5 separate regions of the Homo sapiens genome follow, and regions 1, 2, 3 and 5 are each reported to be linked to region 4. Evidence: microRNA targets listed by miRTarBase, many of them from high-throughput screens and not tested one by one. Region 4 holds a microRNA gene; each other region holds the end of a gene's coding sequence. Distances are from middle to middle.
Evidence for each region. The annotated mature microRNA hsa-miR-6780b-3p reads UCCCUUGUCUCCUUUCCCUAG and lies in region 4 at 3,202-3,222, opposite strand. An mRNA with a match to its seed (bases 2 to 7 or 8) in the 3' UTR can be bound and repressed. Matches are read on the target gene's strand: a 7mer-m8 pairs with bases 2 to 8, a 7mer-A1 pairs with bases 2 to 7 and ends in A, and an 8mer does both.

Region 1: miRTarBase lists WAC as a target of hsa-miR-6780b-3p. Seed matches in the 3' UTR shown: 7mer-m8 at 827-833 and 7mer-m8 at 2,178-2,184.
Region 2: the mRNA of MYO1B is a reported target of hsa-miR-6780b-3p. Seed matches in the 3' UTR shown: 7mer-m8 at 3,497-3,503.
Region 3: miRTarBase lists ATF6B as a target of hsa-miR-6780b-3p. Seed matches in the 3' UTR shown: 8mer at 1,285-1,292.
Region 5: miRTarBase lists PGRMC2 as a target of hsa-miR-6780b-3p. Seed matches in the 3' UTR shown: 7mer-A1 at 1,173-1,179 and 7mer-m8 at 2,472-2,478.

The regions. Positions count from the first base shown.
Region 1 is chr10:28,618,899-28,624,001 of GRCh38, forward strand. It overlaps WAC (WW domain containing adaptor with coiled-coil), which reads left to right. Exons shown (of 14, transcript NM_016628.5): 14 at 639-4,214. The coding sequence ends at 708. Among named protein-coding and RNA genes, the nearest start is that of BAMBI, 56 kb to the right of the region's middle.
Region 2 is chr2:191,423,439-191,428,543 of GRCh38, reverse strand. It overlaps MYO1B (myosin IB), which reads right to left. Exons shown (of 31, transcript NM_001130158.3): 31 at 3,158-4,707. The coding sequence ends at 4,584. Among named protein-coding and RNA genes, the nearest start is that of MYO1B-AS1, 180 kb to the right of the region's middle.
Region 3 is chr6:32,111,580-32,116,681 of GRCh38, reverse strand. It overlaps ATF6B (activating transcription factor 6 beta), which reads left to right. Exons shown (of 18, transcript NM_004381.5): 17 at 118-202; 18 at 714-1,418. The coding sequence ends at 943. Among named protein-coding and RNA genes, the nearest start is that of TNXB, 4.8 kb to the right of the region's middle.
Region 4 is chr6:43,432,717-43,437,821 of GRCh38, reverse strand. It overlaps MIR6780B (microRNA 6780b), which reads right to left and starts at 3,280; the gene lies at 3,202-3,280. ABCC10 (ATP binding cassette subfamily C member 10) reads right to left here. Exons shown (of 22, transcript NM_001198934.2): 3 at 4,462-5,105; 4 at 2,974-3,201; 5 at 1,915-2,071; 6 at 1,575-1,684.
Region 5 is chr4:128,266,983-128,272,087 of GRCh38, reverse strand. It overlaps PGRMC2 (progesterone receptor membrane component 2), which reads left to right. Exons shown (of 3, transcript NM_006320.6): 3 at 675-2,846. The coding sequence ends at 772. Among named protein-coding and RNA genes, the nearest start is that of PGRMC2, 18 kb to the left of the region's middle.

The DNA of each region.
Region 1 (5,103 bases), not on the chromosome of region 4:
TAATAGCTACTGCTTTCTTTATTGTGATGATACGGTTTATAAAGTAATACATTTTAAGTTGTTAGAGCCAAAGGAATTATTAAGAAATTGTTAGAAAAGGCTGGGCGCGGTGGCTAACGCCTGTAATCCCAGCACTTTGGGAGGCCAAGGTGGGCGGATCACCTGAGGTCAGGAGTTCAAGACCAGCCTGGCCAACATGGCAAAACCCTGTCTCTACTAAAAATATAAAAATTAGCCGGGCGTAAGGACAGGTGCCTGTAATCCCAGCTACTCAGGAGGCTGAGGCAGGGAGAATTGCTTGAACCCGGGAGGCGGAGATTGCAGTGAGTCAAGATTGCACCCCTGCCCTCTAGCCTGGGCAACAGAGCAAGACTCTGTCTCAAAAAATAAAATAAAATAAAAAGTTGTTTGAAAACTAAAACATCCTTTCATCATCCTTATACTTTAATAGATATTATGTATTAAATGTTTACTTTGTCTTAACTGTAAACCAATTTATAGTTAAATAATTTTTTAAATTTCTTTGCCTTAATTAGAAATCACTTGTTTTAATTTAAAAAATTTTAATTATAAAAGCTCGGGTTTTCTGTAATATTTGTATATGTACACAGGTTCTAATGTCTGCTTTTTTTTTTCAGGATACTATTTTTGAGACAACAAATTAAGGAACTTGAAAAGCTAAAAAATCAGAATTCCTTCATGGTGTGAAGATGTGAATAATTGCACATGGTTTTGAGAACAGGAACTGTAAATCTGTTGCCCAATCTTAACATTTTTGAGCTGCATTTAAGTAGACTTTGGACCGTTAAGCTGGGCAAAGGAAATGACAAGGGGACGGGGTCTGTGAGAGTCAATTCAGGGGAAAGATACAAGATTGATTTGTAAAACCCTTGAAATGTAGATTTCTTGTAGATGTATCCTTCACGTTGTAAATATGTTTTGTAGAGTGAAGCCATGGGAAGCCATGTGTAACAGAGCTTAGACATCCAAAACTAATCAATGCTGAGGTGGCTAAATACCTAGCCTTTTACATGTAAACCTGTCTGCAAAATTAGCTTTTTTAAAAAAAAAAAAAAAAAAATTGGGGGGGTTAATTTATCATTCAGAAATCTTGCATTTTCAAAAATTCAGTGCAAGCGCCAGGCGATTTGTGTCTAAGGATACGATTTTGAACCATATGGGCAGTGTACAAAATATGAAACAACTGTTTCCACACTTGCACCTGATCAAGAGCAGTGCTTCTCCATTTGTTTTGCAGAGAAATGTTTTTCATTTCCCGTGTGTTTCCATTTCCTTCTGAAATTCTGATTTTATCCATTTTTTTAAGGCTCCTCTTTATCTCCTTTCTTAAGGCACTGTTGCTATGGCACTTTTCTATAACCTTTTCATTCCTGTGTACAGTAGCTTAAAATTGCAGTGATTGAGCATAACCTACTTGTTTGTATAAATTATTGAAATCCATTTGCACCCTGTTAAGAATGGACTTAAAAGTACTGCTGGACAGGCATGTGTGCTCAAAGTACATTGATTGCTCAAATATAAGGAAATGGCCCAATGAACGTGGTTGTGGGAGGGGAAAGAGGAAACAGAGCTAGTCAGATGTGAATTGTATCTGTTGTAATAAACATGTTAAAACAAACAAAAATTGTTATTTTTCTTTTCCTTCGGTCAGTGCACATTAGCATTTGAACTACCTGGGGATTCTTTATCAGAACTGTTCTTGTTGAATATTTATACTTAATTGAAATAATTCCTTAAGGGAGGTTTTGTTTAAAACGTATTAACAGGAAATTGTGTATGAGATATTTAATGAAATAAGAAATTCAACAAGAATGATTAAGTCACTTCCCAAGTGGTTGTCATTTGTTAAACCCTGGTTTACCTGTCTTGCTATTATGACATTTCATTTGGAAGGATGTTTGTGTTGTAGCTAACTGTTCAAGTCTGGTGCTGACTGCTGTTCTTAGCCATCACAAAACGCTAAATTTGTGTAATTGGAGCTTCCTGCTGTTATCTGGAAATAGCAGGAAAGCGCAGCTTTGTATATTGTTTCCTAAAGTATATTAAAATAAAAAAAGAAACTATTGCTACTATAAAATTACCTTGACTTTTTTTTTCCTTTGCTGAAATATTAGTCACATAGCCTTAGCTTCACACTGCCAGTAATGTATCAAATCACAAGGGTTTCCGCATGAAAAAAATCTTTTCTTCCCCCACAAAAAAACCTTTACCATCAAAATCTTGCCATCTGATTTAGAAAGGTGTTTCTTCTTCTTCTTCTTTTTTTTCTTTAAATTGGTTTAGGGTTTTTTGGTGATTTTTTTTTTTTTTTTTTTTCTGTTGGGGCAGATAAGTGCTTCCAAAACTGGCAGCACCAAGGGCTTATTTTTTATGTTAGACATCAATGTCAATGTTACTACATTCTCGGATGCTAACATAAATTTTGAAATTGCTCTTGTGCTTTAAGCATATATTGAAAGTATGGAAGTTAAATGTTCAGGCTTTTCAGTAAGCTCAAAAAGTTAACTGTAAGCGATAGTGTTGGTGTTTTCTAAAATACAAAAATGTTCCAGTGTAATTAAAAGGAATTAAAATCTTGAAGATATTTTCCTGTAATTTAAGGATACTTTTTAAATGTAAGAAAAGACATGTCATTAATTTATTGTCATGTTTATACCTCTGTGAGATTGTTAACATCTGCTGAATTTAACTAGTGCATGTAAATGAAACCCCAAAGAGCTGTGTGTTCAGCTAGAAACCTTACTGTATCTTTCCTGGAAAGAAGTGAGCAATTTGTTGTAATAGGCAAATGTTTCCTGATCAGATGGCAATTTGTGATTTAGGTAAATTTGAATTTGATTTGCTTATAGTCTACTGGTCTGTGTACCTATGTTTTGTTTTTCAAAAAAGTTTACATCCCTAAATGAATTAGTCACATATATTTAGGAGAAGATGCCTAATTTGGTATTTCTTAATAGTGAATTTTTTTTTTTCTTGAGACAGAGTTTCACTCTTGTTGCCCAGGCTGGAGTGCAATGGCACGATCTCGGCTCACCGCAACCTCTGCCTCCTGGGTTCAAGCGATTCTCCTGCCTCGGCGTTCCGAGTAGCTGGGATTACAGGCATGCACCACCACGCCTGGCTAATTTTGTATTTTTAGTAGAGATGGGGTTTCTCCATGTTGGTCAGGCTGGTCTTGAACTGCCAACTTCAGGTGATCTGCCTGCCTTGGCCTCCCAAAGTGCTGGGATTACAGGCGTGAGCCACCGCTCCTGGCCAGTAGTGAATTTTTAAACACAGAAAATCTAAAATTTTGTGGAAATATTTTAAATATTGCACCTTAATACAAGGTATCCAGCTCCTAACCTTAACTAGGGAATATCTATTAAAATAAGCATAATGTTCTGGACTAGAGTATTCCTTATCTAGTTGGTTATGGATTTGAACATGTACCTTGGTTTAGATACTTTGAAAATAGAAGTACTGAATAGCCTCTAGGGAACTTGAGTGGCCTTTCCCTCCCCCTGCCCCCCCCCCCCCCCCCCCGTTTTAAAAGATCAGTAGTCTCTATTCAAACTTTTAAAATGTCGTGGTATTGTAACAATATATTTGATGAAAGAAGGTTACAGACTCCCCTGAAGAACCAGCTTTCCTACGCTTTTTATTTTTCTAACTTGTCTAACCTGATTTTAAAATGACTGCAATTCCAGACTAAAAACATGCTTCAGCCCTGTTTCAAGACATTATGCTTCTTTTAACAGTCCAAATTAGTAGTTTTATTTTTCTTCTAAATCTTTGTTTCACACTTGTAAAATCTTGGGAAGGAGGTTCTTAAAACTTTGCCAGGAATTGTTACCCATTTCCAAAAACAGTTTATTATGTTCAAAAACCACCATATCTTTGAGGGACTGTTTGAAAGGGGAGAGGGCAACGCGGGAAATAATTCACTCTGCGCACCGGAACTATTGTAGTTCAGGACTTCCAGCTACTGTATTTAGATGTTGGGTTTGAATATACAGATTTCTTTTCAATACCTGTAAATATGGCTATATTCTTGTATTTGTACGGGAGTGTACAAAATGACACTGAAAAGTAATAAATATGTTTTGACTATATTGTGCAGTTATTTCAGAACTGTGTTTTGAAAGTCTTAGAATGCATAATTTGCATTTGAGTAAGGAAATTTAAAATACAGATTACTGCTGAGATTTTAATCAGTCGGTGTGTTTCAATAGTCTCTGAAACATTTTAGTGAAAATTATGACGTAAAATTGGGATTCTTTAGGTCCTGCTCTAATTTGCGGTACCCTCCTTTTCCTGATCACGACCTTTGATAGTGCCCTAAAGTGCAGCCTGTCTAGAAGATCTCATCCAGGCTCTTGGCTCTAAAAACCCCTTCATGTGCTACTTTACATCCCGATTATCTCCAGCCCTGATCTCTTTGAGTTCCCAAAAACAGTCCACTTAGATGCTTTCCTTAACACGGCATGCACTCCAAAAAGAACTCACGGTTTGTGCCTCAGATTATTCTCTTTTAGTTTTTTAGTAATTGACACCATCATTGTTAAAGTTGCCCAAAACCCAAATCAAGTCATCCTTCTTTTCTAACACTCGATATTTAATCCATCAAGACCCACAAGCTCTTTGAAAATGTTTCCTTAATGTTCACCTCTCTAGTCCAATCCACGATCATCTTTGAACCAAATCCCTGCCACAACCTCCTAACCTTTCTGCTTCTACTCAGATCTCCCAAGGTTTTCTCCACCCCACCTCCGCACACACACAACCTGTTCTCCACCAGGCTGTTCTGTTCATAATCCTGCAATGATTCACACTCAGAATAAAACCCAGAGCTCATACCATGGCTTGCGTGTTCAAGCCCCTGGTTATTGCCACGTTTTCATCGCTGCAGTCTCTCCTTGCAGGTTTGCTTTCCTCTGCCTAGAAAGCTCGTGATAGAAATTGGTACAGCTTGCTGCCCCTTTATCAGTCTCCTCAAAGAGGCCGTTCCTGGGCCAGGTGCAGTGGCTTACCCTTGTAATCCTAGCACTTGGGAGGTCAAGGTGGAAGGATTGCTTGAGCTTGAGTTTGAGACCAGCCTTA
Region 2 (5,105 bases), not on the chromosome of region 4:
GTTCCCTATTCCTTTCTGAAATACTGAGAAGCTGAGACTATTTTCCTTGGTTATAAAGTTAGATTTTTGTCGAATTTCATGGAACTGACCAGAGGTGATCTAGCAACCATGCCAGAAAAAAAGTTAATGAGAAAGAGATTGTGGCTTTTGCTGTACTGTGATTAACTCCAGATTTTGAAAATGATCTTCAAACCAAAGAAAATGAGGCAAACATTCCATGATCTGGAGGAAACCAACTCAAAACAATTAATTTTCTCCTGTGTGGCAAATGAAATAAAAGCTGATGAGACCAGAAAGCATGTGCCACCTCATCAAGGTTACGGCTTCCTAGGGTTTAGCTAACAAAAACCTAAGAATCAAAGAGCACACGACAGAATTATTAAAGTAAGACTCAAAGAAAGTGCTCCTCCAATAATAACACAACAGAAAATCTTCGAATGTATGATGAAAACTTACAGCTGTTTTTCTCAACAGGAGGAAAGAAAAGCAAAACTACTGCCCTTCTTTCTCTTCCATTCTACCCCTATGCATCTAATTGTTTTAGTGAATTTGAGTACCACAATATTCATGGAAAAACAATGTCCAGCTTAAAAACAAAGGCTCTTAATATGATACATTCTGGTTAAAACTCATTGTGAGAACAGACACATTAATGAATTTACTAAATCCTTCCCCAGCAACTTACACCATTTCAAAGGTACTTGCTATTTCAAGATTTCAATGAGCCTAAGAAATACCTTACCTATTATATATGAAAAGTAACAGATAAGAAGTTTTGCCTTTTATATTTGGCCTAAAAGCATTTTGAACCATGCTCTAATTATCACAATTATACTCAATTACATGAACTTGAGAGTTCTCAGCATATTAATTGACATGGCATAATAAACAGTTCATTCTCTTAGATTTCTGCCAAATCCGTAATATTGACGATATCCCTATGATTCTCAGAACTCTTGGCCTGCTTCTTTGCCATTACAGACATACCCCCATCACCCCTGGGTATGAGCAAAGCTTTTCAAATTTGAGCTGAAGGCCTTCCATTTGAATTCTGGGTCCAAGTTATTATTCAAGAGTGTGCAGTACAAAACTGTAATCAAGCCATTAGAGAATAACTATTCCCATACTCCCTTCTTGTCCTGTGGCAGATGGAAATCAAAGTCAAGAGTAGCTGCATCAACTACACTGCATACCTTGGCAACTACCATGTTCTATCTGGTACCCATTACCCGTTTACTTTTTTCAAGCCCATCAGTTAGTCACTCCAGGGTCTGGGTACTCCTAGTCACTACTGGACTAGATCTAGGAGTCTAGGTCCTAGGTGACTAGGTCTAGTCACTCCACTCACTCCTAGAAGTCACTGCAGGGGCCGAGCAACCTTCTAAGTTATGGGTGGGAACAAGTTAGGGCTGTGAGGCCAGGCCAGAATACACAGGAATTCTGGAGTGTCATGAATGCTTTAACTTTCCTTTGCAGGACAGCGACAGAAACCGAGATAAAGGAGTATCAGTTTCTTGCTCACTGTAATAGAGTGATGCCACAGTTATTGGTAACCTCTAGTTCGGCACTGGGGTTGGCAGATTTGGCAGGTATGGCTCACTGGGCCATGTGCAGCCAGAGGGAAGCTTTAGACTAATGGTTCTCATATTTGGGTGAGGGTCACCAAAGGAGGACTTTTTAAGGCATAGACGGCTGTGTGTAGCTATAGAGAAGCTCTAGTAATTTCCCTTGGTGGTTCTCAAACTTCAATGTGTGTGAGTCATCTGGAGATTTTTCTTTTTTGAGACAGGGTCTCACTCTGTCGCCCAGGCTGGAATGCATCTGGAGATTTTCTTTAAAATGTCTGTTTTCAAACTCTATTCCAGAGATTCTGATTTGGTTAGTATAGGGTATGGCCCAGGAACTGGCATGGGTTTTTGTTTTTTTGTAATCTTTTAAAAACGAGCTTTCTAGCTGGGTGCGGTGGCTCACGCCTGTAATCCCAGCACTTTGGGAGGCTGAGGCAGGCAGATGACTTGAGGTCAGGAGTTTGAGACCAGCCTGGCCAATATGGTCAAACCTCGTCTCTACTAAAAATAAACAAATTAGCTGGGCGTAGTGGTGCATGCCTGTGGTCCCAGCTACTCAGGAGGCTGAGGTAGGAAAATCGCTTGAACCCAGGAAACGGAGGTAGCAGTGAGCTGAGAATGTGCCACTGCACTCCAGCCTGGGTGTTGCAGCAAGACTCTGCCTCCAAACAAAACAAAACAAAACCAAAAATTAAAAAAAACACACACACAAAAAACAAGCTTTCCTTGTGGTTTTGAACCAGATTGATGCGCAGTGACATTTTGGGAAACACTGCTCTATAGTGGGTCACCTGGGCCATAGTGGCACTCTCCTTTGTAGTGTGGTCAGGTTATTACTGCTCTTCCCAATGGGGAATGTGAAGGGCTTTCACCTTGGTACATAAGGAAGCTTTCTGGCTGCAGTTCAGCAAATCTTTCCCAACACGTCAAGTCACAACCCATGAAGAATGGGTTCCATGACCAAAAATTATTGAATACTTCAGTGACAAGACTGATTGAACAATCTGCAAATAAGGTATTTGGAAAAATCTAACAAGTAGACCTATGGGATATTTCTCCTTTCCATCCTAGTCTTCCATCCTCAAGTTCCATTTAGGAAGCAACCCAATGATAATGAGTAGGAGACCAGGTAAATCCACCACAGCACATCCATACAACGGAAGAATGAGCAGCTCTTCATGATATTCTGCTAGGTGAAAAAGGCAAGATAAAGAACAATGGCTACAATATAATATACTAGCTTTTGTCTACTAAAGCAGAAGAACGTAAGAATCTATTTTGATTTCCTTTTGCAAACATATGGACAAAGTAATACAAAAGCAACTAACAACAATGGTTAATGTTTCGGGGAGGGTGGGAACTAAGCAGATAGCTGGTTGATAGGATGGAGAATTTGTAATGTATATATTTTAACACTTACTTACATGCTGAACAATGTGAACATACTGCATGTTATTTAAAACACCACACCCTCTCATTCCCAAATTTCTACTCACCAGTATCAGGAACTATTAATCTACCACTTTAGGCACAAGGCAAGAAGAATCTAAGTAATTACATCCTCTACCTGCACCAATAAACACAAAGACTTCTGAGAACTTCTTTATGTGAGCAATTTTTAAAAATACAAGTCAAGAGAAAATCCCCAGAAAATATTTTCAATTAATGTTTCTGGTTTATAAAAGATAAGTGAAATTCAGTTACACAGAGAACATATAATGTTTGGATTGTAAAACCTTTCTGAGAGATGATACATTGACACACAACATATGAAAATAGCTTGAGATACAAAAATACAGTTGTGATTCAGGAAATGGCACCAAATTAGAACAATTTTATTATTTAACATAATACCAATGTATATACATTATCCTCCCAAATAAGAAACAATTTGATTCCAAAGTTTAAAATGTAGTTTCCAAAATGAACCCTTGTAAATTTGAAGAAAAAGAAAGAAAGCCCTGCAAGTTACACAAATTTTGATCCATGACTAAAATAGGCACCCTGTACCAATCACCTTTCTCATACAAAAATGTATATTATAAATAAAACTTTCAAAAAAGATCTTGGATGTTTTATTGCACATCATACAGAATGTTTTACTGCTATCTGAATGGCTTTTAGCCCTTTACTTTGTTAGGTGTTTAAAATATCTACTCAAATTTGGGTGAAAACAATATTCTGGAGATATTATCATTTCGAGGATCATATATGGTATTTACCAGAAACAGAAACATATAATCTTACTGGACTGCTTCTGTCACTTTTTCTAAAATAAGAATGACTTCTATTTTCTACTGTTACAAGTAATTACCAGAGTTTTAAACAAATTAAAAGTCCTGTTCAAATGTCAGTTTTCTTTTTTTCAAACAGAAACCACATGTAGAGGGATTTAACCTGGTCATTCATTTCTGCCCCCTCTTAGGACCAGCCCTTCTTGAAGCCTATATTGTTAAATATCATACTACAGGGTTCCTAATAATGCTGTCCATCATTAACAGTTATTGTTTTGGTCTCACCATTTCTAAACCTTCTTAGATGTCGTTAAACCAGCACAAACCAGCCAGAATGCAATGGTCTCAAAAACAAAAAGGTTCCTAATAAGTTTTCATACCATCTAGCACAGTGCCTAGCATAGAGTAGGCATGGAATAAATATCTGATGAATGAATGCAGTATCTTTTAAGACCATTTCCTATGCTTATATTAATTAATGATTTATGAGTAATATGCTGATTTAGGGTACACAGACCTAACATGATGACTAAAGGAAGAACACATCAGACATGAAAATAGACACTGTTAGTTTCTACAATCCTGCTCCAGGACAGAACATGTATTTGAAAGGTTAAAACTATTCCAATAATAAAAATTGATTAGTCAAATATTTTTATTTTGCCAAAGAACTCTAAAAGCCTTTGGTGATTCCCAAACATACAATGAACCCCAAATAAAACAAAACCAAATTGCACTATTACAAAGGAACAAGTCCATGAAAGTAGAGAGGAGGCGCCAGTTAAGGGACAGCAACTTCAAGGAGACGGTTGTTTTTTCGTTTACATGTTGGGACACTCCCATTTTTCTGGTTTCCCTGAATAAACTTCACACATACTTTGTCCTGTCTGAACTGTACCAGGAACCTAGGAGAAAAGAATAAAACAAATTAAAGTATACACAAAACAGCTCATGATTACAATAACACTTGCTTTTGTATTTTAATGGATACTGATCTTGACGAGTACAGGCTGCGCATCCCTAACCTAATCCGAAAATCTGAAACCTCCAAACTCTGAAATGTTTAAAGCACTGACATGATGCTTAAAGGAAATGCTTGCTGGAACATTTCAGATTAAGACTGAAACATTAAGTATAATGCAAGTACAGTCTATGGGCTACCTAACAACGTTTCAGTGAACAATGAACCACATATATGATGGTGGTCCCATAAGCGCGGAAAAATTCCTATGGCTTAGTGACGTCATAGCTCTCCTAATGTAGGGCAATACACTACTCATGTTTGTGGTGACTGATGTAAACA
Region 3 (5,102 bases), 11 Mb from region 4:
TCTCTGTCACCCCAGGTTCCCAGCAGTCTGTCTTCAGTGGGGGGATGTAGAGTAGGGCTGGGGAGCTTGTTGGCATCTTTGCCTCCACCCTTCTGGCCTGGCCCATCTGTTCCCCAGGACCACCTGCTGCTCCCAGCCATCAGCCACAACAAGACCTCCCGGCCCAAGATGTCCCTGGTGATGCCTGCCATGGCCCCCAATGGTAACTCTTTCCCTGCTGGGTATGGGGGCAGTTCCAACAGGGAGATCCAGCCTGGGAGCTGAGGGGGAAGGGGGAGAGGAGCAGGGCATCCAGAGAGCTGCTGGACCCACAGGTGAGAAGCAGCAGGAAGTAGGTGGAGGGAAGAGCACCATGCAGGAGACTTGGGAGGGAGACAAGGGTGAGGGTCCTTCCCTGGTGAAGGTGCTTGGGTAGATGACTGGGCAGAGGCGGGGGGCCGGGAACCTGCTAGACTCTCACTTACTTTTTTCTCTTGATGTCCTCTCCTGTGTGACCCCACACTCAATGCCCTTTTCTTTTCCTACCCTCTCCTTGCCCCTGCACCAAACTCTGTCCCTGCCATCCTGTTTAACTCCCGCTATGGATCTGCCTCCTCACTATTGCCCTTTCTTTTTCTCTCTGCTCACCTCTACTTTTCTGACCTCCTCCCCTCCTCCCTGCAATCCCTGTTTGCCTCCCCATCTCCTCTTCCTTAACTCTCCCCTTCTCACAGAGACCCTGTCAGGCCGTGGGGCCCCGGGGGACTATGAGGAGATGATGCAGATCGAGTGTGAGGTCATGGACACCAGGGTGATTCACATCAAGACCTCCACAGTGCCCCCCTCGCTCCGAAAACAGCCATCCCCAACCCCAGGCAATGCCACAGGTGGCCCCTTGCCAGTCTCTGCAGCCAGCCAGGCCCACCAGGCCTCCCACCAGCCCCTCTACCTCAATCATCCCTGACCTCTGCCATTCACACTGACTTAGAACGGGGGGAGGGGGTACCAGGTGGCCAGGTGGGACTGTTTCAAATTTCCCTGATCCCCAGGCTTGGGGCAATTGGTAAAGGAAAGAGCAGGTGTGGGGGTTAAGCACTTATTTGAGGTGGGGGTGTTCACCTCTCTTCTCATCCCTTTTCAGAATATAGGGCTCCTCTCATTCCTGTGAACCCCCAGTCCTGGCTTCTTTGTTTGAGGGGATTGTGTGAGGTTCAGTTGTGGGGTGGGTGGTGAGCTGCTGCATATTTTTTATTTTGTTTCTCTAGTGTTATGGCAGTGGAGGTGGGAATTTAGTCCCCAGGTGGGACAAGGGAAGTTTTTTCATTTTGGAGCTAGTTACTGGGAGTAAGGGAGGGTGGGGTGGGGGGGAGTTCAGGTTTATGTGTGTGCATTTCTTTTTTATTATTATTAAATAAACAACTTGGAGGGAGTTGAAGGAATGGTGGCTGCCTTCCTGGCTCGTGATGGGGAGTTTGGGGGAAAGTGGCTTTTCCAGAGCCAGCATCAAAGAATCAAGCACTGAAGACATAGCTGGCTCTGAGGTGGGGTGGGTGCGGGATCACAGACCGCATGTCATCCCCTTGCCCCCACCCCTGCAACTCTGGGGTATATCTGTGTCTAGCAACGATGTCTCATGGCGTGACAGACTAGAGGATACGCATCCCTGGAATGTGAGTCAACAGGAAAGATGGGGCCCCACGCCCTTCAGGGTGAGCAGCCTCTGGGTCTCCTGCTCTCGAGCAGGTTCTCCCCCTCTTCTTGCTGTCCAGGATGAGCAGCTCAAACAAACAACAAGAGCTGGGGCCAGAGGCTCAGAGCCCAGGAAGTGGGGGTCTCGGTGAAGAAGGGGTGATATTTGGAAGGGAAGGGGGATGTGGCAGGATATCCTCTAAGCCCTAAACTGGAGGGGACTGAGACTTGAGAGTCCAGATGAAAGACAAAGACAAGAGTGGGGCAGGCAGAAAAAGCTGTACATTCTTATGTTTTTAATTTTTTTTTTTTTTTTGAGACGGAGTCTTGCTCTCTCACCCAGGCTGGAGTGCAGTGGCGCGATCTTGGCTCACTGCAACCTCCGCCTCTTGGGTTCAAGTGATTCTTCTGCCTCAGCCTCTCAAGTAGCTGGGACTACAGGTGCACGCCACCACACCCGGCTAATTTTTGTATTTTTAATAGAGATAGGGTTTCACCATATTGGCCAGGCTGCCCACTTCGGCCTCCCAAAGTGCTGGGATTACAGGTGTGAGCCACCATGCCTGGCTAGGCTGTGCATTCTAATTAGGAGGAAGGGGAGCAGGACAAAGTGAGGGATTGAGTCTGAGGCCAACCTGGAAGAATCCCCCTCCAGCTGCTCCTGTTCAGCAGTGCCTCAGGCCTGACCCTGCAGGAGTGTCCTGGGTCAGCTGGAGGGTGTGAGCTGGGCCTGGGCTCAATGCCCAGATGACTGGACAGGGGCTGCCTGGGCCATAAGCCCAGGCCTGAAGGAGGGAGGAAGAACCTCATGTGTCCAGCCAGGCAACCCCCACACCCCTCCCACTGCCCTCACCCATTACTGTGTTTGGGGTGAAAACAGACCAAGTAACTATGGCAACCTGGAACCAGGGATCCCAGGAACTAGACCTTTCCTCCCTCCAGAGGGCAGCCCAGCTTCTCAGCTATGCTTTCTATCCCAGAGTCCTTGAGCCTTATCCACCGTATCTCTGGAGGGGGTGCAGTGAGAACAAGGATTTTGGAAGCACATCACCTAAGCTGGATTCCCTACCCTGCCTTTCGTTAGTAGATGTCCTTAAACATTCTGAGCCTTAGTTTGCTTATCTGTAAGATGGGATGTTCCTACCTCCTAATCAGGGTTGATGACAGGATGAAAGACGACGTCCTCAGTGCCTGGTCCATAATAGATACACCTTTTCCTCATCCCTTGCCCCTTTCTGTCCCCATCTCTGTTGTCCTTCTCTCTTCCACTTTTATCCCATTTGGGTTCATTACTGTTTCGTTGTCCCATTGTCTTCCTCCTTCCTGCCCCCAGTTCGGGAAAGTACTTGAAGTGCTGGCATCTCAGGGGTCACCCTGGGGTGGGACATCCTGCTCCTCTGCTGATTGGCAAGGGACAGCTGGCACTTTGGTGTGGATGAGACATCAGACCTCTCTTGGCTGAGGGATTGTGGTGGCAGGAAGGATTGAGAAGGACGGTGAGTGGGTACCTGATGCAGGGTGAAAGCCGGGCAGGCTCTGGGCTGCTGCCTTCTAGGCCCATGTGGATCTCCATTCCTCTGGCCACACCCCCAAGGCCACTCAGCATGCCAGGTCGCTGTCACTCCTGCACCTCATTGGCCCCTCCTGCCCTATGCCCACTTTGTCTTTCTGTTCTGCTTTCCTTGTGCCACCATCTCCTTCATTTCTTCCTCAGGATCCCACCTTTTGTTCTCTCTCATCCCTGACCTCATCATCCCTCCCTTCCTCTTTCTAGACTTCTTTCCTGCCTTTCTTTGCTCTCTACCTCATTAGCAGTTATCACAACCTCTTTTTGAACCATTATTCATCACTGTTTTTTTCTTCTTTTGTATCTTCCCCACCCCATCCACTGCTTCACTGTCTTAAATTTTTTTTTTAATTTAAAAATAGAAGTGGGGTCTCGCTATGTTACCCAGGCTGGTCTTGAACTCCTGGCCTCAAGCAGTCCTCCCATGTTGGCCTCCCAAAGTGCTAGGATTACAGGCATGAGCCACCGTGCTGGCCTTATTTAAAAATATATATATATTTTTAAATTCACTGTCTTTTTCCTTTGTTTTTCTTGGTCTTCTCATCTGCTGCTGCTGCTGACCCTGTGCTTGTCTCCTCCCTTTCTCATGCCGCCCCCTTTCTATTTCCCATTCTGCTCCCTCGTCCACATTTCTTGCCCCTTTCCATTATGTCCTCTCTTTTCCCCCACTTTGGTCCTCTCCTCCTCCTTCCTTCCCCCACTCCCTTTACTTCCCACACCAGTTCTCCATCCTCTTCCCAGCTGTGGGGGCCAGCACTGGGGAGCCTGATGTTTGCCTCATCGTTCTGCTATGGCTTCTGGATACAGCACATCTGGATTCCGGGGCCCAGATGTGTGGTTGCCACAGCGACCTGGGTCCCTCTGGTAAATACAGGCGCCCACCCGCCTCAGAGCAGAGAACAAAACAATTGTGTGACTTTCTTTTGTCACGAGATAGAAATGTCCTTCCTCCTCCCTTCTCCCCACACCCATGTCTCTAGGCAAAGGAAGTTTTAAGGGTCCAAACCCTTCCTTCTGAGGCTCCCTTGCCCCCTTTTCAGCTGTAGCCTCTTAGTTCTCTCCCATCTTTCATCCTGCTCTCTGTCTTTACATTCTGTGTTCCCCATCCTCACCCGACCCCCAGTTCTCAATAATGGAATGTTGACCACCCCCTTCCCCATCTGATGCCATTTCTTCTAAGTGAATCTACACAATAACTGGATGCAGAAAAGTTTCAAAAATCTGGATTCTCCACCCTTCTTTGTACAAGTGCTTCAAAGAAGCCACTTCATTTGTTCCCTAAGTCTTCAATCCTTTCCTTTCCTGGAGTTGTTTGGGGAGAAGAGCGAATACAGGCTTAGGAATGAGAACACCTGGGTGAGACCCACCTTCACCACTACTGACTTAGCCCCTTGAACAAGACCCTTAATGTCTATGAGCCTCCGTTTCCTCAGCCACAAAGTGGGATTAATGCCCGCACTGTGTAGGAAACTGTTTTGTAAACGGAAGCCCGGCACAAGTGTTTTCTATCTTTCCCCTCTCTGGGACTGCTTTCTTGGACCGCAGCCCCTGGCATCTCTTGTTCCCCTGTCTTCATCCTTCAGGTCCTTGCCCTCAATTGCCCTTACTCTTATGTGTCTGCCTTCTCTCCTCCCTATCTTTCCTTTCCTTTTCTCTATCTTTCATCCCTTTTCCTCCTGAGGTCAGGACAGGAACTTGGAGGATCATTCAAGGAGGGAGGCTCAGAGCTGAAGACACAGGGACTGAGGTTACAGAGAACAGCCGGAGCTTGTGGACAGTTCTGGACAACACTGACCTTTCTACCCACCACCACCCAGACACCTCAGTGAAGCCAACCCCAGCTCTGACCACTGGGCTTCCCTGCCTT
Region 4 (5,105 bases):
CTTCTTTCTTTAGTGTGTAGGGAAAGAATTCTCCGCTTCACAGGCTGATCAACAAATCAGGCTCTAGAAAAGTAGGGTGTTTTTTTCTCCACTCAGAGTGGCTATCAGTTTCACTGTCTATGTGAAGGGCCTCTGAAGGGGAGCAGCATGCCAGAGAGAATGGGAGGAAACCACCCAAGAACTTCCAAGGTAAACTCTGAGACAGGCACTCCAGAACGGGAGAGGGAAGGGTAGAATTCCAGGCTTTAGGGCCTGGATGATGGGTTGGCTAAGTCGACCTGTGGCTAGAGTTACCATATCTCAGGGGAAAAAGCAGAGCTTTGCATAGATCCCTATTTCTGTGGCTTAAATTTTTCTGTTTACCTTTTTTTTTTTTTTTTTTTTTTTTGGTCATATGTTCATGGAGCTATCTCCCTGCTCAAAAAAATATAAAAAAAAAAAAGTCCTAGTTCCTTCTCTAGAAGGGACTGGGCTCTCAGAAGCTCTATCTGCCTGTGATGCCCCAACCCTGCCAGCCAGGGTTGACCCAGCTACAAGTGGGCACCACTTCTGAGACCTTTCCATGGGAATTTGGGATCAGGTCCCAGAGGCAGCTTCTCCTTGTTGGCTGTAACTTGTAAACTCGAGCATTCTCTGTAGTCACATCTTCTGCTCAGTGGAGGGTGTGTCCACAGAGAGAAGAGAACCAGGCAAATACAGGGAGAGAGGCACACAGAAGCAGAGAGCTCTGCGAGTTGAGGCCTGGTTCTGGGCTGTTTCTAAGATCCAGCTGCGTTCCTGCCTTTGGATTCTGCAATGTATCTCTACATCCTTATTATAAATTCTTGTTTGCTTAAGCTAGCTCTAGTGTGTTTCTGTAACTTATACCCAAAAAAGCCCCAACTAACACATTAGCAAAATTCCTTTGTACAAATCTAGCCTTGTCTTGCCTGAACTAAGAGGAAAAACAAAACATACAGCCCAAGCCAGAAACGTGAGCCAAATGTGGTGGAGGCAATTCAGCCACCACCAGAGAATGCCGGGTTGAGCTGTGGGGCACAGGGTTGGACAAAGGTCAGGAGAGAGTGAAAACTCAGAACAGGAGGTGAACAGGAGTTGGCTTATTGCCAGGAATGCCCCATTTTAAGTTCTTTGTATGCTGTAGCATGAGTCACAGGGTGTGATTGCTTTTCACCAGCCTAAACAGAGGATCCCCATTTGCAAAATATTTCTTGGAAGCACTTGCTGGGCCTCTCCCCCAGATCCCCAATCTGGGGGAGATGCTACATAAACCCCAGGGCCTGTTCTGAATGCTGCAGCTTCTGAGGGACATGGAGAGACAAGCACACCCATTGGTCTGGACTGGATGGATACAAGCTGCCTAAAGACCAGAGAGAGGTGCAACTATTCTGAGATTCAGATGTGAGGTGTCATCTCCTCATGATTAGAACCTGCTCACCAAATGCCTATCCCTCCTGCAGCAATTAGAGCTGCAGAGCCATCAGCTATGATTGGCTCGGTCACTGCTTCTCTGACATGAGTTCCCATCTCTCTCGTTAGTCTGAGGACTCTCCCAGGGTGTCTGTCCAACAAACCTTTTTCACTTCGAGATGACTGATGAAGGTCTCCAGGCTGGTTCCAACTGGGTCCCAGGAGAACAAGGCTCCATGCAGCTCCAATACTGTAGATGGCTCTGCAGGGGGATCTGAACAGAGAAGCCACTTGATTTGGGCTCCTAATCTACCACAATCTGTTTGGGGAGGGTAAATCATGTAATTCACTTGCCAGCCCCATATCTACCTGCCCAAAGCTAAATGAGTCTGTTTTGGATTCCGCTCTCTCTAAGCCCTCTTGGTGACATCTATGCGCAGCACCCAAGTGGCTCCACTTCCCTCCTCACCCTGTGCCAGGTTCTGCCCACTAGCTTCCCATTACCTGGGCTGTAGTAGGCCTGGGGGTTGTGGTTTGGAAGGTCGAGGAAAAGCTGGATCCGGTCCAAGGACACTTTGGCCTCCAGGAGACCATTGATCACCCAAGGGAAGTTGTTGAGAGGAAGAATGAGCATTCGCACCAGTGCCAGGGCCGTGAACACCTGAGTGAGGTGGGTGCAGGGTGAAGCCCCAGGAGTTATCTAAGGGCCTGTTTCTATGGGAAGCCCTGTGGACAGGTCTACGGAGGGAAGAACTGGGCAATGACAGAACTGAAGGGCTGGCTGGCCAATCCTGGGATCAGATGTGGCAGAGATGGTCACTTAAAGAATCCTAGAAATTCCAATGTTCCTCAAGGGATTCAGGTTGCATTTTTTTTTTTCTTGACGAGTCTTGCTCTGTCACCTAAGCTGGAGTGCAGTGGCATAATCTCGGCTCACTGCAACTTCCACCTCCAGGGTTCAAGTGATTCTCCTACCCTAGCCTCCTGAGTAGCTGGGATCACAGGCATGCATCACCACACCTGGTTAATTTTTATATTTTTAGTAGAGACAAGGTTTCACCATGTTGGTCAGGCTGGTCTCGAACTCCTGACATCAGGTGATCCGCCTGCCTTGGCCTCCCAAAGTGCTGGAATTACAGGTGTGAGCCACCACGCCTGGCCAAGGTTGCATCTTTTTAACTAGGCAGGCCTAGCTCATTTTGAGTCTTTTTTTTAGAATTTCCAAGTAGCAACATCACCTGGCCTTGGCTAGACCCAGGATTGCATCATACATTTTTTTCCTAAGGCCATTAGAACGAGGATGAAGAGACCTAACCCCAAGCCTGGAACTGAATAGAAGCTGGAGTGAAAGGTAGAGGAGAGGAAAGAAAGGAACTCCTTCACAGAGGGGAGGGTTATATATCCAAGGCCCCCACAAAAAGGTTTCTTCAGTTTTCCCTTGGTTGAGAGATGAGGCAGTCAGGGATCCCTCCCTCCTTCTCAGCCAGCACTGAGGGCCCAAGCCTCTGTCTTCACTTCGCTGAAGTCTCCTTGATGCTGGTCCCCTTCCTTCCTGGTCCTCACCTTGGTGGCAGTGAGCTGGTGCCCCATGAGGACATAGGTGATGAAGATAACGATGGAGATGACAACCGGTAGGGCAGCCCACAGGTATACACAGGCCGCATCCAGGTATTTGATGACCCGGAGTCGCCCCAGCTCTCGAGCCCGGCAGGCCTCTACTCGGGCTCCCAGTGCCTGCTCCCACCCGCAGAACTTGATGACCCGAATGCCACTCAGCAGCTCTGTCACAAGCTAGGGAAAGGAGACAAGGGAGAGGCGTGAAGTGGAGGCACTGCTCATGTGTCTTCCCTGCCAAGCCTTCCCCAGGCTGCTGGCAGAATGTTCAGTACTCTAAGCTCCCAGATACTCTGCACTGCCCTAGTCTTGGTTTTCTTCCTCACCTCAGTACTTTCTGGAAATCCTGCCCTTCAAATCCTTTTCAGCCCTGGGTTGCTTCCCCTCCCAGTCTCTTACTTCTCCATTTGCTCCAGCTGGGGACAGCTTGGAGTGGGAATTCCCCACCTTCCTAGGAGGAGTGGTGGAAGGTGGAGCCAGGTCACCACAGTGGAGTAAAAGCTCTCCTCCCATTAGATGAGGGACAAAGGGCTATCTCCCAAAACCAAAAGATGTGGGCTTCGGGGGCTGGCCCCCCAGTTCCGGCCCCCGGCTTGAGTGGCACAGAAACTATTCCTGTAGAAGTACACAGGCATAAGAGGCCACACTACAGCCCAGGGTCAAACAGGCTAATGGGCCCAGGGAAGATGGGCAAGGGCCAAAACTCCTCGTCTGTAGCTGTCACAGGTAGGGGAAAATGCCTCATGCCATAACCATCTATCAACCTCCCTTCCCTCCAGGAGCACTCTGAGCTGTTCCACTAAGGGTCGACAACTATGCTGTATGAACCCCCAGGACTGCCATCCCCTTTGTGAAGGTACCCACAATCACTGCAGAACCCAGAGCTCTGCAGATTCAGCCAAACCCTAAACACCTGGAGTTGACCCAGGCAGGAAAGTGACCTATTCCCTTCCCCTCAGCCTACCCAAAGAGGCAGCTGAGGTTCTCCTAGGTCTCTACATGCAGCCATGGGGTGGTCTGTGCCCTAGATAAGGAGGTTGGAGACTTGGGTCCCAGCTCTGGCCCTAAAGACCTGTTTGGAGCCAGACAGATGACTTCCTACCTCCCAGGGTGGCCACATGTATTCAGAGCTTACTTTGTGACTGGCACTACACTAAGCATTATCTCATGAGATCCTTACAACTCTACAAGGTAAGCTACTACTATTCTCACTTTACAGATGAGGAAGGGGAAGCCCAAATAGGTTAAGTGACTTGTCTGAAGTGATTGAACCAGTAAGTGTAGAGCCAGGATTTGAACCCAGGTCTACCTTTCTCCAGTCTCAGCTCTTAACTTTGAGGTCACTCTCACTCCCTCAGGTAGTGTGCATGGGAAGACCTGGGGACCTGGGCTGGGTGGGGTCTCCAGATAGCTGAGGGACCCCAAGTACCCGCTCACCTTAACCCGCGCATCCTTGTGCTGTAGCATTTCCTGGTTGCTGGCCATGATGCGGGTGGCAATCACTTTGTTGACGGGTACCAGCAGCAGTGCCAAGATGAGACCACCCACGAAGGCCACGCCTACCTGCTGGTACAGCAGGTAGAGGGTGATGGCCAGTTGCAGGGGCAGGCCCCAGGCTTCATGGAAGCTCCCAGCAAAGTTAAGCAGCCGTTCAGAGTCAGTGCCTAGTAGGTTCAGGGCCTCCCCAGTAGGAGGGCGGCTGGGCCCCAGCTGTAAAGCCTTGCAGTACAGGATGTTCAGCACAGCCCCCCGTGCCTGAAGTGTTACCTTATATACCTCATACCCATACTGATTCTGCAGCACAGCACCCAGCACAGCCCCACCGGCTAGCCCCAGAGCATAGAGCAGGCCGTGGCTTAGTGGCTCCTGCCCCTCTTCCAGGAAGCCCACCAGTAGGGAGAGCAACAGGGGCCCTGAGAATCCCAACATGGTCCCCACCAGCTTCAGCAGTCCAAGTGCCAGATAGCACCGTCCAAAGGCCCCATACAAGGCCCTCCACAGCCGTGCCCCCTCCTGCCAGTGTGCCTGGAAGACACGAGCCAGGTAGGTTGGCTGCAGTCTGTGGGGGAGGCGGCAAATGT
Region 5 (5,105 bases), not on the chromosome of region 4:
AAAAATATGATTGTTACATGTGATAATTATTTTGAAAATCAATATTTAAAAAAATGACTTGTTACAAATTCTAAGCCTCAAAAATTGTGATACTTACAGTCAGCTTCTTCATTAAGGTTTAGTTTTTTAAAAATACAGGCTTATATTTAAAACTGAGTTGATTACTGATTTCAATACTATAATTTATTCCAAAATGATTTTACAGATCTTAACACTCGAAATGTAGATAAAAAATATCTTTCCCCTTTCTTATGCCCTCATAACATCAGTTTTTACCACTTGTGTGATGCTGTCCCAGCTGTTTATCTGACCCCTGGGTCCCTTGGAACAGCTGTTCTGGTTTAGCTGGGTACTGAGATGGGTCCTGGACTTACTCATTTTTAAAAAAGATCTCCAAGTGATTCTGATGCAGTATCCAACTAAGAATCACTGGTACAGAACACCCTCTTGCAAAGAATTCCCAAGCCTTATAAGTTCCCTAATCCTGTTTTCTTTTGTTCAGGCTTTACATGTGTATAAAGACCAGCCATGGTGAAGCAATTTTAGAATATTTAGATAATATTCTAATAATCATATTTTATATGATTCTAAAACAGACAAATGCCTTTTCTCTGTATAATGGAATAGTGAAACAAATTTGATCACCACTGATTTTCTTTTGATGTATCTTTCAGAAAAATATGATTATGTAGGCAGACTCCTAAAACCAGGAGAAGAACCATCAGAATATACAGATGAAGAAGATACCAAGGATCACAATAAACAGGATTGAACTTTGTAAACAACCAAAGTCAGGGGCCTTCAGAACTGCAATTCTTACTCCCTTTCACAGACTGTCCGGAGTCTTTGGGTTTGATTCACCTGCTGCGAAAAACATTCAACAAATTGTGTACAAGATAAATTAATCTCACTATGAAGATTTGAATAACTAGACATTATTTATGCTGCCAAACTCATTTGTTGCAGTTGTTTGTAATGTCTAGTGGGGCTTCATCATCCTGAAAAGAAGGAGACAGGGATTTTTTTAAAGAGCAAGAAAGTCACAATATTACTTCTTTCCTTCCTTTTTTCCTTCTTTCCTTTCTTCTTTCTCTTTCTTTCTTTTTAAAATATATTGAAGACAACCAGATATGTATTTGCTACTCAAGTGTACAGATCTCCTCAAGAAACATCAAGGGACTCCTGTGTCACATACTGTGTTTTTATTTTAACATGGGTGAGGGAGGCGACCTGATCAGGGGAGGTGGGGGTACACATCAATTTGAGTTGTTCAGGCTACTGAAACATTAAAATGTGAATTCCCAAACTTTTCTTTTTGGCTTTGTCAGGGAAAAGAAAAATATCTTTATAAAGAAATCTTTGGAAATTAGGAGAAGGAATTTCAGGTGGGTTTAAGTCAGAGCTAGTTCCCCAACAGAAAGATCATTTGAAACCAGTTTTTATCCCTTCTCTTTCCTTCCCTTTCCCTAAATCAAATCAATATTAATTGTGCCTTATTTCACTTAACATAGACTTGAATTATTTTTAGGGAAAGCCCCTATAATGAATTCAGAAATCACTACAAGCAGCATTAAGACTGAAGTTGGAATATTCTGTTGACCATAAAACCTTGATATCATTCTGTGTATATAGAATGTAAAAGGAATATTACAGTGTTAACTGCCATATATGTAATATACACAAACTCAATTAGCATTGTAATGGCCAAATGCATTCCCCCATGCTTTTCTGTTTTCAAAAAAATTGAAAAACAAATCAACTCTTATCCCCAACAGCTGCCTAATTTTAGGAGTCTGACCCTCCACATCTCACTGGTGTGGGTGCATGGGGCTGTGGAGTGGGTGTCAGTATGGATGTGTCTGAATGTGTGAGGCCTTGGAAGGGACTCTTTCTGCAGATACTGTAAATACAAGTACCATTTTAATAAAGCATGTACAATAAACCAAAATAAGCTTGAGTTGGACTTTATATACAGAACTGTAAGCCAGTGCATTATGATACAGTTGTAAGATTGTGCATTTGATTCAAGATAAGGAAAAATCTTGGAAATGAAAAGCAGGCACTGGTTAACCAAGTTGTACACATTGTACCACATTCAGCATAACTTTAGGAAGAAATTCCACTTTGTGGAACATTCTCCAGAAATCCAAGATTATTCAGGTAAGAATTGGTATATTAAATGTACATCTTTTTACTTTCTATTTTGATGCCAACTGATTATACTAGACAATTAGCACTCCAGGTGGTTATTGAACACAAAACAGTAAAAGAATATTGCACTGATAGATACTAAATTATTATTTTATTAGGTTGAAAAAGCCCTTACTAAAAGCCCCTCATATATCAATTACTTTATTTCATTATGACTACTTAGGTTCCGGGCTGGGGACAAGTTCACTTAAAAAGGCAATGTTATTTAACAGGTCACCAGTTAAGACTTCTGCTTTGTAGATACATGCAGAAGCCATCAAACAAGGGGGAGCTTTTAACTGCAACAATAAGCTAAAGTATGTAAAATACTACATTCTATTCAGTCTTGGAGTGTTTTGTAGAAAGTTATCTTCAGCCAAATCTTTGCTGAAGACTGGTTGTGGAGTGTTGGTAAATGCTTTGTGTTTTTATGTAAAATATTTTCTAAACAAAAAATGTTAAAAGTACATGTCCTCTGTAGTAAACTGATATCTATATATATGAATCATTCAAGCCTAAAGTCTAGTAATAAACTGTACTTGTGAATAGAGAAACCCTAAATATTCATGCAGAAAAAATTATGCGGTCTGTTAAGAAAAATGAGTAATTTGTGTTTTGGACTTGAAATAAACAGTGTTCTGTAGATAATTCCTCAACTTCAGTTGAATGTTTCTCATTCTCAGGTAGTTTTTCAGGCAGTATTTGAATGAGGGGACCAGACAGTGCTGGTATTGTTCCTTTGTTCCTGTTCCCCGCTCCCCCCTCCACACAGACAGACACATGCACACACACACACACACACTCCTGCTTAGCCCTATTTTCGAAACTTGCCTGATAATTAGAATTGCTTAAGGTACAGATTCTTAGCCTTCAATCCAGACGTACCACCCGCTAAGCCAGAATCTTTAAGAGAATGGGCCTCAGAATTTATTTGTAAGGAATACCTCAGGTAATTCTGATCAGGAACACTTAGGAAACACTGGTTTTTCAAGTTAATATTGACCATCTTTGTTAGGCACTTGAAATGGCCTTACTCAGGTAATTTTGGTCTGATTCCCTTCATCTGGTTTTGTGTCATTCAGAAGACTTCACAAAATTCTAATGTATGATTTTAGAAAACAGCAAATTTTGATAGTCTTTAGATTTTTATCTTTGGGTAGCATTTCCAAGTTGTCATATTTCCCACATTAAATCTACACTGTGTGTACTAGCCAGTTTCTCTGCATTAGGAAATGAACCCATAACAGTTACAGATCAGGTTTTTAAAACCTTGACCATGGTGCTAAGGCTGCTTAGGTTTCCTAACAGTAATTCTACGTGCCTTTCTGTAGGTAGATCTGTTTCTGCAGGTAGATCTTCAGAATCCAACATTACACCTACCTTTACCCACATTCTTGAACCTAATTTGCTGAATTACCACTGGGAGATATTTTGTTCTATAGAAAACAGATATTTTCTACAGAATCAGGCTGTCCTTATCCAAGTATTTCACATAACCTCTATTGATAACAGAAGTGCAGCAAGTTGCTAGTAAGATGTGCCATTAACATGTTAACAGTGTGTAACTACAGAGCTTTTATGTGTCAGAATAAGCGGGTAATACTGTAGTAAAGAATTTATAAAACTTTCAAGTTGCTTTGAGTATATTGAAAATAAGAGTCATGGAATATTGTAACAGTGATACTGAATGAATTGTTCTAATTAAAGTAGCAAATGCTTAAAAGATAGCTTTTGAGTATGTTCCATTAAGGTCAGCCATCAATTTGTTAGATGATACTCATCACTGATTATTTTCTATTTGACTATGGCAAGAAAGCTCCAATAAAGACGACCCAACTTTCCTGTTTTTAGGCAAAAACCATCATTCCTAGGCACTGTTAGAAAAGCACGTACAGAAAAATTGCCATACTCCTGAGTCACTTTGAGTACCAGCTTTGCATTTGTTCTACCACCACTAGTGGCTGAGAGCACATTTGGGCTGCCTGTAATTACTCCATTCAAGAGAGCATTTGACATGCTATGAACACTGGCTTATTCCTAAAATTTTTCTTTTACAGTATCCACACAAGATCCAAGAAAACCACATCATGATGTTTAGTGTAAGAAGACCAATATTTGCATATGCTTTTAAATACTTTGAAAGCATGATTTTAGTGGCTGCATAGTATTGTTCCCAAATAATAAAGTTTTTAATGAAAATGCAGGAAGTTCTGTAGCAGGATGAGCTGCAGACAAGAACCCCTCAGACACCAAGTTGTGGAAGCAAAGGGCTTTATTCAGCTGGGAGCATCGGCGGACTCAAAAACCGAGCTCCCCAAGTGAGCAATTTCTGTCCCTTTTAAGGGCTTACAACTCTAAGGGGGTCTGTGTGAGAGGGTCGTGATCGACTGAGCAAGCAGTAAGAGTATGTGACTGGGGGCTGCATGCACTGGTAATCAGAATGGAACAGAAAAGGACTGGGATTTTCACAGTGCTTTTCCATACAATGTCTGGAATCTATAGATATAACATAACTGGTTAGATCAGGGGTTAATCTTTAACTACCAGACCTGGAATGCAGTGCCGGGCTGTCTTACTGATTTTGCTTCTTTCTTTTCTTTAACTCCTACTTTTTCTTTGAGGCAGAAATTGGTCATAAGACAATATGAGGGGTGGTCTCCTCCCTTATTCCCCCACATTGAGAACCTCACTCATTAGTGGGAGTTCTCACTTCCATCCTCACTACCCATGTCTTCTTGCAAGACAGGTCATGATTCATATAGCACATTTGTGCTGAAGCATTTTGGTGAACTAAGGTAGCAATGAAGCTTTTTATCATTTGAAGTACAGGTAGCAAACAAAGGAACAGTAAGCAGGTTCCTATTACTATTATAACTCCTATTATAAGAGTTTTAAATCTTCCTAGCACTGGGAAC